2 linked regions of the Homo sapiens genome follow. The protein of the gene in region 1 purifies or fractionates together with the protein of each later gene. This does not show direct contact. Each region holds a gene or a part of one and is shown on either strand. Other genes may lie near its edges.

Evidence for each region.
Region 2: the proteins of MYLK4 (region 1) and SUPT20H purify together in Homo sapiens (affinity purification with mass spectrometry; 2 studies listed by BioGRID and IntAct, with this or other methods). This does not show direct contact.

The regions. Positions count from the first base shown.
Region 1 is NC_000006.12:2,747,786-2,755,441, reverse strand, and holds the start of MYLK4 (myosin light chain kinase family member 4), read left to right. Parts: upstream 1-4,519; 5' UTR 4,520-4,706; intron 4,707-6,035; coding exon of another isoform or gene 6,036-6,147; coding exon 6,148-6,306; intron 6,307-7,656.
Region 2 is NC_000013.11:37,056,590-37,063,780, reverse strand, and holds the start of SUPT20H (transcription factor SPT20 homolog), read left to right. Parts: upstream 1-4,092; 5' UTR 4,093-4,222; exon of another isoform or gene 4,223-4,586; intron 4,587-7,191. UniProt on the Homo sapiens protein: Required for MAP kinase p38 (MAPK11, MAPK12, MAPK13 and/or MAPK14) activation during gastrulation.

The sequences.
Region 1 (7,656 bases):
GAAAGTGTCTTTTTTCTCAAGAAACATACACCAATTCATATAGGGGTAAAGTTTCATGAGATATGCATCTTACTCGCAAAAGAGAGAGAGAGGGCAAACATGGAAAATGCTAACATTTGGTGAATATGGGTGAAGGATGTATAGGTATTCATTGTACTATGCTTGCAAATATCCCTTAGAAAGTTTAAGGGATATAATTAAAGGAACAATTTGTGTAGCCACTGTAGAGGTAATAAACTGAAACTTTATGTAATATTTCTGAAAAATATTAATTTTTAAATGATCCAATCCATATTTTTATCTAATTTTTAAAACCTGTTTTATTTTCATTTTTGTATTTCGTAATACTTAGCTAATTGCTGTCACTTAGAAGTTTTAGTGGTCTAATATCAAAATTTCCTGTAAAGAAATCTGGATATTCCATAACATCATTATCTTTCTTGCTCAAAGTATCCTATCTCCAAGCAGAAAATAAAAGATAGAAATTACTTTTAAAATTACTATTAATTTTTCTATTAATTACAAAATCTTATATTGCATGATATTCATGCCAGGAGAAGAAAAGCGTGAGACTCTTAACTGTCTCCTGCTCACCATTCCTTTTCTTTGGCCCTAGGTGACCTGGCAAGTGTGGAATATAATTTATGTTTCCCTGGATCCCAGCCTTGGTCACTGGGGACAGATGACCACAAAGTGTTCAGTTTTTTCCTCTCCTTTTAACAAGCTACTTTTTGTTAATCATATTATTGGGTTTTCTTTTTCTTAATGACTCTATTGAAGTATAATTTACATATTATAAAATTCACCCATCTCAAGTGCACAATTCTGCATTGTTTTAAGAAACTGAATGAGTTGTACAGTCATCACTACCACACATCATCGGGTAAGATTCTGTTTACAATTAACCCCCATTCCTGCACCCAGCCCCCGGCAACCACCAGTCTGCTTTCTACGTCTATAGATTTGTCTTTTCTGAGCATTTTATACAAATGGAATCATACAATCTGTGCTCTATGTTTCTGGCTTTTTTTTTTCAATTAGCACAGTGTTTTCGCTCATCCATATTGTAGTAGATACCAGTATTTCATTCCTTTTAATTACGTAGTATTCCATTTGTATGTGTATACCACATTATCTTTTCCCAGTCTCCAAATCATCCGATGGACATTTTGGTTGTTTTCAGTTTTTGGCTATTGTGAATAATGCTGCTGTGAACATTCATGTGCCATGGTTTCTGTGTTCATATGTTTTCATTTCTCTTGGGTAGATACCTAGGAGAAGAATTTCTAGGTCATATGGGAAATAACTTTTTAAGAAATTGCCAACCTCTTTTATAAGACACCTGTATCATTTTATATTCCCATCAACATATTTGGTGAGGGTTCCAGTTTTTCCACATCCTTGTCAACACTTGCTTTTCTCTGTCTTTTTTTTTTTTTTTTTGGTAGAGATGGGGTCTTGCTATGTTGCCCAGGCTGGTCTCAAACTCCTGGACTGAAGTGATCCTCCTGTCTTGGCCTCCCAAAGTGCTAGGATTACAGGTGTGAGCCACCACACCCAACCTATCTTTTATTTTTTTCATTATTATTACAGCTCTCCTAGTGGGTGTGAAATGATGTTTCCTTGTGGTTTTAATTTGCATCTCCCTGATGACTGATTTTGAGCATTTTTTTTCATGTGCTTATTAACCATTTTTATATCTTCTTTGGTGAGGTCTGTTTTAATCTTTTGTCCATTTAAAAAACTGGAATGTTTTGTCATATATTATTAAGTTGTATATGCTAGATGCAGTCCTTTGTCAAATATGTGACTTCACAGTATTTTCTATACATCTGTAGCTGGTCTTTTCATTTTCATAATAGTGTCTTTTCATTTTCCTAATAGTGTTTTTTCAAAGGCAAACGTTTTGAATTTTGAAGAAGTGCAATTTATCAATCTTCGTTTTTATGGGTCGTATTCAGTGGTGATTTTTGAAAGTAAGGAAGTTCTATTGTAATGTGGGTAACAGGGATGCAGTAGCTTTTTATTTGCATTTGGGTATTTGTACTGTTGCTCCGCTTTTGTGTGTAAACATTCAAGAGGTCTTGTTCTGGAAACATTCAGAACGCTGTGTAGAAACAAAAACTCTTAGTGTAATCCAGCCGGGTTTCAATGCCAACCCGTAGACAAGAGCTGTCGACGATGTTTCTTCATGTGGCTCCTTTGACAACACAGTCTCTTACTCAGCTAATGGAAATGTCCCTTGAAAAAAATCAAGGGATTCTTTTCCATGGCTCTGTAGGGTGCTGTTTTCCTGATGTTGGTATTTTTTAGAGAAGTATAACTCCAAAATATGGAAATACTGGAAAAGTGTTCCTGGGCCTGCTCATATTCCTCACTAATGAATTTTTCCGGGTATAAGAGCATCTTTAAGCATGCAGAACATTTTATGGGTATGGACTTAGGATCCTGAGGCTAGGCTGATAGACCAGAATGAGTATGCATGTATAACCTGTTTTTTTGTGGTCAAGGGTTGTGCCAGCAGTGTGCTTGTCCTGTATGCCATCGGAAGCTGGGAACAGTGTGATGCAGCAGAACCAGACAATCAGTCACTTTTAGCATGGATTATTTTAATTGACTTGCTTTTTAGGGCAAGTAGACACAATTAAAGATCATTCTATCTAGTCATTAATCAAATATGTATTGAATGTATATTGTGCATGGAAATGTCTATATGTGGATGCCTTCCAAATTCTTATCTCCAGCCTACACCCCTCCCCGGAACTCCAGTTTCTATCTCCACAGCCTATTCAACTTGAACGTTTAATGGACTTGCCAAAGACTTCATGCCTGACCTTTCCCTCCAGAGTTGCCCTTCCCACAGCCGTCTCCATCTCAGTTAATGTTCACTCTGTCTTTCAAGTGCTCAGAAGAAAATATGCAAAGGTGTCTACCATCTTTCTTTCATACCCCATACCCAATCTATCATAAATCCTACTGATTCTAAATGTACTGTGGAATCCTGCATGGGATTCTGGAACAGAAAAGGGGCATTTGGGGAAAAAAAAAACCCAGCAACAATAAAGTATTGAGTTTAGTTAATAATAACGTTCACCATGGTTCATTAATTGTGACAAGTATACCATACCAACGTAAGATGTTAAAAACAGAGGATTCGGGGTGCAGGGCAAGGGGAACTCTGAACTACCTTTGCACCTTTTCTGTAGATGTAAAACTACTCTAAAAGGAAAAGTTTATTACAAAAAAATAAGCTAAGGAGCAGATTCTCCTGGCCTCTGGCTCACTCAAGCCTGTGGTTGGTTTGCTGGAGCCAACGAGATAGGAAGTCTGCTTTTGCGTGGTGGTGGTCCGGGTGGAGGATGTGGTTGGATCAGCAGCAGCCCACACACATCTTGCCTCTGGCAGGGCATTTGTTGCCTTATCAGTACTTCTACACAATTTAATTATACTAACAAAATTGGTAACCTCAAACCAGCTTAGTCTTTGTATAATACTTTTGTCAGATAATTTATCTCCACAAATTTATAGTTCCACTTCATTACTTTTGCTGAAGAACAAAGCTCTCCAATCTGAAAAATAACAAGCGTTTTGTGTTTTAAAAAAGATTTTGCTGTAATTCATTAATACTACATAAAATGGAAAAATATGTATTTTTATTTCACATGGAATGCATCGATCTGAATTAAAAATAAGGTTTTTTTTTTAAAAGAAGCAGAAGAGCAGCAGAGGCTGGTGTTAGAATGGGGCATAGAGGGGCTAACACAGGCTCCAAATAAGAGGTGACAATTGGCCAGGCCCTGAAAAATTGCAGGGTTTTCAAGACTGCAAAGTCCAGCCTCTGGGCAATCAAAGTTTTATGCCACTTCAGTGAATCTAGGGATGCACTACTGTGAGAGTCGGGCAGGTGGGTTGAAATTCCCCTTTCTTGGTCTGTGCAGAAAACTACGGATGAAGTCCTAGTGTTGCTTAAGGAGAATTTATGAAAAATTTATTCCTGTTTCCTGGATGCCTGTGCCTTTGACCTTTCCCTAGAGCTAGAAATGGTTGGAGACTTTGCAAACATCTTTAAGAACTGAGAAAAATAAAACAAACTTGCTAACTGCTTTCAGAAGATCTTCTATATTGCAGTTGGATATGCTCAAAGCGTAAGATGGGCAAACAGAGGTGGCTGTGGGGTTGCCACACCTGGCATTTTCCCTACTGGGGGAAATTTAATGAGCACTTAAATAATCCTGAGTCTGAAAGGGGCAGAAGGTCCAGGCAGATGATTGCCGAGGACAAATCTAGCTTTGTAAATCCGAGAGTATTGACACAATGATACGAGGGAAAGGTGAAGGTGATATTTCATCCAGTGTTCCCGGTTCATCCTCTCCTTACCTGACCTCTGAAATGGAGCCATTGGCCTTGAAAAGCCTGGTGTCTAAAATTAATATTCTTCCCCATCTGACTAAGAAGGCAACAGCTGAGCAACGTGAGATCAAGAGCCATATTAATTTAAACAGGGGCTGAAAGTGGCATTTGAGAGAGAAGATACTTCCTCTCGTAGTGGACACTTGTCTTTTCAGAAGATTTATACGACTGAGAGTCAAAACTTTTACCAGAGACTTTCATAGTCAGTTTGAATTCTGCAAAATTTCTCTTTATCTTCTGGAATGTATGCTCTAGACTTGGAGTGGCTCAAGCTCTTCGATGTGATCCTATCAATGGTAATTATCTTTGTTTATTGTTATAACCTCTCAAATCTCCTCCCCTTTTTTCTAAGTTACCTTCAATAACAAATTGTACCAAACTTCAGGTAGAGCTTAATGTTTAATATTTCTTTGCAAAATTATTGTATCTTAATCCTAAGCTTTTGTTTTAATACATTAATTTTGTGTGGCTTCCTGATCCAACTTGAGTTTCATCTGCAATTAACCATAGTATTTTAGTCGTAGTTTGCCTTAGAAATAGCCATGCATTTGTTTCCTTATTTTAATAATTTTTTCAGGGCAATTTGAAAGAATGCTAAGAATGATCTGTAATATATCTGTAGAGCTCTGGTTGATAGTATTAATATTTGCATTTTTATTTGTTTGAATGTAAGCTCTTTATGTGGATAAGTATAATTTGTTAGAGCAGTGAATTTTAAACACTTTGGAACTCAAGAGTATCATTTTACTATAGGAACTGACAAAACAAAATATTAAGTTTTCTGATGAGAATCACAATACGGTTTTTAAGCGGAGAAAATGCTCGAAGAGGCGCTTTTCGGAAAATCTCCACCAGGGGGCCTCAGTTGTCAGCCATGCGGAACTAGCACAAATTCAAATGTCTCTCCCTCTCCCTGCCTCTCTATGCAATCAAGTGATGTGTACATATAGACATGCGTATATGTCTCTAGTATCAAAGCGAATTATGTATGCTGCATTACTTCATTTGCGAGGAAAGTATTTTAAGGAGAGTGAAAAGACTCTGAACTTCTCGGTACATAGCTGTTAATGCAGATGCAAGGAAAGGTATCTGGGAGTGCTGTCCACGTGAGAAGACTGTAAGGAAATAAATTTCTTTTCACAAATAAACACCACACATTTTAAGGCATAGGTAGAGAAGAGTTCTGGAAAAGGACTCATTCGGGAGCGATCCCTCTGCAGAGGGAGGCCAGGGGAAGCAGAGAGACCCCTTCTGTGATAAGCCCTTCCCACGGGGCTGCAAAACCTGCGGTTCCAATTAAACCCAAAGATACTTTATAATTTACATCCAAGCTGGCCACTTGATCTACGGCTTGTTTTGTGCAATAAGGAGCATATTTCATCACCAGTGAATCTTGACATTGCTTCTTACTGTTTGCTTTTGTAGTTTTAAAGTGAAAAAATTTTTTTTCCTTTTAAAGTTCCAATGTTGGAAACTCAATATGAATGTTAGTATTTCTTTTCCTGATTTTGGATCCTCTCTCCAGTTTAAACAGAAGGGACTTCCAAATTCTCACTGGTCATTTTCTCAAGAAGTCAAATGCATGAATACGTGATGAGAACTTTTTGTGTTTCCTTTCTTTGCAGTCAAGAGAAAGAAGCACTGAAGAGTCATAATTGTGTCCTGATTTATAAATCGGAGACAGAGGGAGACGAAAACCACACTCCAGAAAGTAGCTTAATCGGACTCACTACTAAGATGTTAAAAGTGAAGAGGCTGGAAGAATTCAACACGTGTTATAACAGCAACCAGCTGGAGAAAATGGCCTTTTTTCAGTGCAGGGAAGAGGTGGAGAAAGTGAAGTGTTTTCTGGAAAAAAATTCTGGGGACCAGGATTCAAGATCTGGACATAATGAGGTAATCATGTTCTAATTTAGTCTCCTAAAAAGTATTCATTCTATCTTATCTTTTCTAATGTCATGGAGCCGCTTGTGAGTACAATTAAGGAAAGTTTATGAATAGGCATCATTCCACTTTGCTTCAGTGAGAATTGTGTGTGTCGACTATACAATTGTGTTTGGTAAATAATTAGGAGGCCTTTGAAACTGCATTTCTGCCAGCAGTCGACTTCACTTTTAGTTAGTGGCTTAGGAGTTATACAGCCAGCTTGCAGAAATGAAGAAGAATCCTTTAGCATGATGGATTTGGGCTTGAAATTCAGAAAAGGGCTCTGAGAGGCACACTGTTCTGCAGAAAGAAGTTTCTCCTTTTTCCTTCAGATCTTGAGTTCCTCACGCGGTAGACAGCAGAGCTGTTGATAGTGAAGTCCAGAGAAGGGACAAGAAAGACTTGCTGATGGCACGACGGTGGGGCTTGTACCCTCCTCTGTGCAGAACGAGAGTTCTGAGCCCCATTCCAGCTGCTCGTTCTTGGGAAAAATATTAATTTAACCAAGGGCTTGCCACATCTGAATTAGTGAGATAATAGCAATTGTGAAAATTAAGTGTGATCACGTCTGTAAAGCACTCCGCCTAGTATCTGTCACTAGAGTCAGCATTTAATATGTGTTAGCGGCAGCAGCAATTACCTCCCCTGCCTTGGCCCAGTCAGTTCCTGCCCATCATCCGTTGGCTCCTTGCCCGGTGGGAGCATCAAGCATTTTGCCCGTGCCTTCATTCCAGCACATGTGGTGGTTTTGAACATGTTGATCACCTTTCTCTAGACAAGGCTCCTTAAGGTTGGGAAACCTCGTGTTATTTGTTCATGTTTCCTCAGTTGCTTTCCTAGTAACGGAAACAAATAGGCACCAAAAGTGTTTTTGGAATGCACAGATCTATTTAAGTGAATTCTGGTTGAGGGCTGGGAACCATTATTTTTGATAATCAGAGCAAGTGATTCTTATCAGGCAGGTTTGGAAAACATCCTTCTTTGCCCAGCTACTGTTCTAAAAAACACTATTCAGGTAGGAAGGGCGTTTCTAACAATGCAATAGACAATGAAATAGAGAGATTGTATATAAAAGGTCTAGGAGGCTTTTTATTGTAAGTGAATAAGAAATGACAAAATGTGCTGGAGAGAATAAATGAATCAGATTGAAACATTTTTTTGAGACCTCTGCTTTCCCCATGAGTTCAATATAGACCAAGGAGAAATATCTACAGGCAAAATTAAGTGAGACATGACTTTCTCATTAGGGTTTTCAGTGGTACAAACAGGATAATTTTTTCTGTTTATTAATTTCGGTAGGACAGAGAAGACAAAATATTC
Region 2 (7,191 bases), on another chromosome or scaffold:
TGCTAAGAACTAAATATGTCCCCTCAAAATTCACATATTGAAGCTCAAACCCCCAGTGTCACTGTATTTGGAGATGGGACCTATATAAGAAGGTAACTGAGGTTAAATTGATCACAAGAGTGGAGTTCTGATGCTATAGATTAGTATCTTTATAAAAAAAAAAAACAACAAAAACGACCAGATATCTTTCTCTGTGTGTTTCTCTGTCTGTTTCCCTTTCCTTCTCCCGCTTCCTTTATCATATGAGAATGCAGAAAGAAGGTGGCTATCTACTCGCCAGTAAAAGAGCCCTCACCAGAAACCAAATTGGCAAGCACCTTGATCTTGGACTGCACAGCCTCTAGAACTATGAGAAATAAATTTCTGTCGCTTAGGCCATTCAGTTTATGGTATTTTGTTATGGCGGCTTGAGCAAACTAAGATAGATTTTGCTACCAAGAAGTTGCATGTTGCTTTAATAAAACCTAAACATGTGAAAGTGGTTTTGGAACTAGGTAATGGGTAGAGGCTGAAAGAATTCTGAGGTGCATGCTAGAAAAAGCCTAGATTTCCATGCTAGAAATATGGATGTTAAAGGCAATTCTGGTAAGAACTCAGAAATACAGTTGAAGAGAAAGCCTCCATCTTCTTAGAGAAAACATAATCATGAACACAATTTTGGTAAATATATGTTTGTTAAAGGCCATTCTTGTGAGGTCTCAGATGGAAATGAAGAATGGGTCACTGGAAGACAGAAGAAAGGCAGTCCTTGTTATAAAGTAGCAAATAACTTGGCTGACTTGTTTTCTAGTGTTTTCTGGCAGACAGAATTTGTGAATGATAAAATTGAATATTTAACTGAGATTTTTAAGCAAAATGCTGAAAGTGCGACCTGGATCTTCCTGAATGCTTATAGTAAAATGCAAGAAGAGATGAATGAAAGAAGAAATTATTAAGCAAAAAGGAACCAAGACTCAAATATTTGGAAAATTATCTGCCTGTCATGTTGCAGAAAATGAGAAAGTACATTCTAAAGAAAACACCAAAGGTATGGTTAGACTATCATTTGATAAATAAATGATGAGATTATATGAGCAGAAACACTGCCTGTTTCAACTGAAGGGGATGCAGACAAGACAAAAATGACAGAAGGCTTTTACATGTCCTAGATTCTACAGGACAGGACAATAGAGCTATCCAGCTGCTAACTTTGTACTATTCCTTTTTTTTTTTTTTTTTGAGACAGATTCTCACTCCATTGCCCAGGCTAGAGTGCAATGGCGGGATCTCAGCTCACTGCAACTTTCACCTCCCAGGTTCAAGTGATTCTCCTTCCTCAGCCTCCCAAGTAGCTGAGATTATAGGCATGCACCACCAGGCCAGGCTAATTTTTGTATATTTAGTAGAGATGGGGTTTCACTATGTTGTCCAGGCTGGTCTCAAACTCCTGACCTCGTGATCTGCCCACCTTGGCCTCCCAAAGTGTTGGGAGTACAGGCGTGAGCCACCGCACCTGGCCAAACTTGTGCTATTCTTTAAGAAAAGGGGAGAATGACCTCAAAGCAATTCAGATGTTATCAAGGCCATTACCTAGCAAAACTTTTGGGATGAGACTCTGCCTGGAAGAGCATGCCTGGCAGAGTGTGGGGAGAGGTATAGCATCCACCTAGGGTCCAGAAGGCAGGGCCACCACCCTTGTAGGTCTGGAAGGCAGGGCACTGAATCAAAATGGATTATTCTTGAGCCTTAAAATCTACTAGAATTTGCCTTGCTAGATTTTTGGACTTGCTTGGGACCTGTCATCCCTTCCTTTTTGCCTATTTCTTTTATTTCCTTCCTTTCTTGCTCCTATTTTTGTTTGTTTGTTTGTTTGGAATGCCTATTCTATGCCTGTTCTGCCATTGTATTTTGGAAGCAAACAACTTCCCTGGTTTTACAGTTTCATAGCTGGGGAGAAAATTTGCATCAGGATGAATCATATCTCAAGTCTCACCCTTATCTGTTTTAGGTGATATTTAGAAGAGACTTCGGACTTCAGATTTTAGAGTTGATGCTTTTGAGACTGTTGAAGTGGTATGAATGTATTTTGTATTCAATAAGGACATGAATTGCAGGGGTACAGAAGTCTGTTGACCAAATTATATCTCCACAAAATTCATATATGTAACCCCAAACCCCAATGTCACTGTATTGGAGATAAGATCTATAAGGAGGTAATTAAGGTTTAAGAAGATCATAAAGGTGGGGCCCTTATCCAATAGAATTAGTTACTCATAAGAAGAGACATGAAAGCTAGTGTGCTTGCACAATGGATTCTTGGTGATGACACCAAAAGCACAAGTAACAAAATAGATAAATTAGATTTCATCAAAATTAAAAAGGTTTGTACACTGAAGGATATTACAAAGAAAGTGAAAAGACAACCTACAGAATGGGAGAAAGTATCCACCAATGATATATCTCATAAGGGTCTAATATCCAGAATATATGACTACACATAACTAACAACAAAAACACAAACAACTCAATTTAAAAATGGGGAAATACCTGAATAGAGAGTTCTCCAAAGAAGATATACAAATGGCTAACAAGGGCATGAAAAGATGCTCAAGATAACTAGCCATTAGGGAATGCAAATCAAACCCACAATAAAATACCACTTTATACCCTTTGGGATGGTTACTATCAAAGGAATAGAAAATTATGGTGTTAGTGAGGATGTGGAGAAATTGGAATCCCCCGACAATGCTCTTGGTATGTAAAATGAATGGTTCAGCTGCTGTAGAAACATTTGTTTATGGGTTCCTCAAATATTTTCACGTAGAATTACTATAAGACCCAGAAGTTCCACTATGTTTATACCCAAAAGAATTGAAAACAGGGACTCGAACAAATACTTGTATACAAATGTTCATATCATTGCTATTCACAATAGCCCGAAAGTGGAAACAACCCAAATGTCCATCAGTGGATGGACAGGTAAAACTGTGGCATCTAGGTACAGTGGAATAGTAGCCATAAAGAGACATGAAGTACCGATACATGCAACAAGGTGTACAAGGTGAACCTGCAAAAGATTATGCTACGAAGACAGACCAAAAGGTCACACATTCCATTTATATGAAATATCCGTAATAGGTACCACAGTTTGAAAGCTGATTGGCATTTGCCAGGGGCTGAGAGAGGGAGGAATGGGAGTAACCACTTAATGTGTTCGGATTTTATTTTGGAGTGTACTTTAATACACTTATAATGTGTGCAACCACTAACTCTAATTCCAAGACACTTTCATTCATTATGACCCTTGGCATTGTGAACGGCAAATAATAAATGCTCATTAAAAAGATTCACCCCAGGCCGTGCATGATGGCTCACGCCTGTAATCCCAGCACTTTGGGAGGCCAAGGCGGGTGGATCACTTGAGATGAGGAGTTCAAGAGCAGCCTGCCCAACATAGTGAAACAGTCTCTACTAAAAATACAAAAATTAGCCGGGTGTGGTGGTGCACGCCTATAATCCCAGCTACTCCGGAGACTGAGGCAGGGAGAATCGCTTGAACCCAGGAGGCAAAGGTTGCAGTTAGCTGAGATTTCTCCACTCCACTCCAGCCTGGGCGACAGAGCGAGACTCTGTCTGAAAAACAAACGAACAAACAAAACAAAACAGACCTTACAATGTGTGCTAGTAATGCGGTTTCTGAATTTTTAGAACCCTTCTCTGGGGTGGTTTTTTTAAAAACATAAACTCATTGGCAGTTGATATACTACAGAAGGTTGTACGCATTGGACTAGTAAATGTAGGTAACGGTGTCGCTGTTTTTCCATTTGTATGTGCTAAGCAAAGAGAAAAGCTAGTTCTATGTTTCTTCCACTCTAGAAATTCAACAGGGTCGTTTTTCCCCAAATTCACATCTACACCCTCCCTCCCACTTTGCGGACTCGGACTCCAGGATTGAGCAGAGATCCTGGGCCCCGCCTCCCGCCCGGACGCAAGTCTCTGCGGGCCTCACCGGCGTCCTGCGCGGAACGCAGCGCTCCAGGCTCCTGGCAGCGGCCCCGCCCTCCCGGCTCCTCCCCTTCCGCCCGCCTTCCCCGCCCCTCGGCCCAGCCTGCCAATCGGAAGTGCGGCCGCCGGAACTGGCTGTTGGTGGGGGTGCAGCACTGAGCCGCCGACGGGGCGGGTGGGCTTTGCTGCCGAGCAGGCGGCGCCGTCTTGGGGCCTAGCGGCGAGGCGACCCGCACAGGTGGGCGGTGGCGGTAGGTGGGTGGCCAGCGACTGGCAACGCGGTGGCTTAGACGCGCGAGATCCGGCCAGGGTCAGAGGTGAGCGGGCCGCATCCCAGAGCCCGCTGGAGGAAGACGGGGTCCCCAGAGACCCGGCAGGCCGGGGCGGAGGTTGAGGCAGCTAAACTCCAGGTGGACGCCTACATCGCCTTTCGCGGTGTTGCTAAGCCGAACTTTTAATTTTAGTTTGACTTTTGGGTTCCAGAGACGGGTATTTCCGGACACTGGCAAGAATTTTGCCTTGCGTGTCTTCGAAGGCGGTTTTCTTGGTGTCCATATTGCATAAAGGCTTGTCGCTCCTCTGTGGAGATGACGGTTGTACAGGTAAAGCCTAAGTTGTGACAAAAGCTCCTGCAATGGGAAGACTCTGGTCGATCAGGGAAATCAGTAGAATTGATAGCAACGCGTAGAATTGATAGCAACGCTTAGAATTGGATTAATTACTGGCCATGGTTACCCGGCGCTCAGAAATGAACTTGGAGAACAGTTGCCCTGGAAGCCATCTCCCGTAGCCACTGCGTAGTGGGGGCCGCGTCTTCTTGAGTGCAATTCATCAAAGTCTCTAGTAGGACTCAAAATATAAAGTGACGAGCAGGATTTTCGGAGTCGAGTACAGTGTACTTGGGTTGATCACCATGTTATAAAGTTAGATCCAAATTAAGAAATACATATTCGTCTCTGAGCAGAATTGGGTCCTTTTTTTAATTGCTTTGCTTTTTTTAAAGAAATGTAAAAACAGATGCCGGTTTGATTAGTTTGCAGGTTGTAATATTGGAAGGGACCTAAGATTGGACACAGAGTTCTGAATTCTGATCTAGGTCTGTGATGTTAGGAAAGTCAGTTGTTCTGATTGCCTTATTCTGTAAAACGGAAATGATAATGATTACAGTTTCCTCACAGGTTCTAGTAAATTCTGTGTATAGACAGAATGTTTGCTTTGTGAGAGATATGAAGTTATTAGTTTTTGTCTGAAGTACTTAAATAATTTAAAGTTAGTAAGCCCCCATCCCCAATTTAGTGACAAGAAATCTTAAAGTCATCACATTTTGTCCGAAAAGTACATAGTGTATCTTCATCTTCAAATTCAGTGGTCAGAAAATTTTCACGTTCACCTAAATTCAACTTAAACCTCCTACGAGCTTTTCAAGGGTAGGAGTAATATCTTACTCATTGTAAATGATCGTAAATCATTTACAGTTGTATGGTGCTTGTGTTTGTGTTGTATTAGGAGGTTAGTCCATTTTTTAAAGTTTCAGACGGAGTTTCACTCTTGTTGTCCAGGCTGGAGTGCAATGGGGCGATCCTGGCTCACTGCAACCTCTGCCTCCCAGTTCAAGCCATTCTCCTGCCTCAGCCTCCGGAGTAGCTGGGATTACAGGTGTGTGCCAACACACCCGGCTAATTTTTAATTTTTTTAGTAGAGACTGGGTTTCACCATTGTTGGTCAGGCTGGTCTCGAATTCCTGACCTCAAGTGACCCACCCGCTTCTGCCTCTTACAGGCCTGAGCCACCGCCCCAGCCAACTTTTTTTTTTTTTTTTTTTTGAGACGGAGTCTCTCTATGTCGTCCAGGCTGCAGTGCAGTGGCGCGATCTTCGCTCACTGCAGCCTCCACCTCCCAGGTTCAAGTGATTCTCTTGCCTCAGCCTCCTGAGTAGCTGGGATTTCAGGTGTACGCCACCACACCCGGCTGATTTTTGTGTTTTTAGTAGAGACGGGGTTTCGCCATGTTGTCCAGGCTGGTCTCGAACTCCAGGGCTGAAGCAATCCACCTGCCTTGGCCTCCCAAAGTGCTGGGATTATAGGTGTGAGCCACTGCACCCGGCCTTCTGTATTTTTTTGTAGAGACACTTTCCCCATGTTGCTCAGGCAGGTCTGGAACTACTGCTCCTGGGCTCAGGCCATCTGGCAGCCTCTGCCTCCCAAAGTGCTGGGATTACTGGCGTGAGCCACACCCCACCTGGCCCTTTCCTTTTTTTTTTTTTTTTTTTTTTAATGGCTTGGCAAAAAACAAAGCTTTGGGGTTCACCAAAAATCAAAGCAAAACTGTTTTACCTGGAAAATCTTGTTTTCTGTCATCAGAAGTTGTGCTTTAGTTCAGCTGTGTAGACACCCAGTAGTGGTTACATGAAGTTAGGTGAATAGATTAAAAATAATTTTTATTTGTCATCAGTCTCAGAGCAAATGTTTTCTATTTATTTTTATTTCTAACTTTTTTTTTTTTGAGACAGGGTCTTGCTCTTTTACCCAGGCTGGAGTACAGTGGTGTGATCATGGCTCACTGCAGCCTCTATTTCCCAAGCTTAAGTGATCCTCCTGCCTCAGCCTACCGAGTAGCTGGGACCTGTGCCACCATGCTGGACTAATTTTTTTTTCTTCCCTTAGTAGTGACAAGTCTCACTATGTTGCCCAGGCTGGTCTCAAACTCCTCAGCTCAGATGATCCTCTCACCTGGGCCTCCCAAAGTCCTGGGGTTACAGGTGTGAACCACCATGCCCAGTCTTATCTCAGAGCAAATGTTACGCACCATCCTTTGCTAGGCAGAGTGAGCTTCAACCCTGGCAGCACGTTTGACTCGTCTGGGGAGCTCCAAAAATGGGGACTGTGCCTCACTCTAGACCACTTAATCAGTCTCAAGCAGGTGGGTCACAGGCATCCCACAGTTTGAAGCTCTGCAAGTTACTCTTGTGCAGCCAGGATAAGAACTCCTGTAGTTATAGAAAAGAAGATTTTCTTTTTTTTTTTTTCTTTTTATTATACTTTAAGTTTTAGGGTACATGTGCACAACGTGCAGGTTTGTTACATATGTATACATGTGCCATGTTGGTGTGCTGCACCCATTAACTTGTCATTTAACATTAGGTATATCTCCTCATGCTATCCCTCCCCCCTCCTCCCACCCCAAAACAGGCCCTGGTGTGTGAAGTTC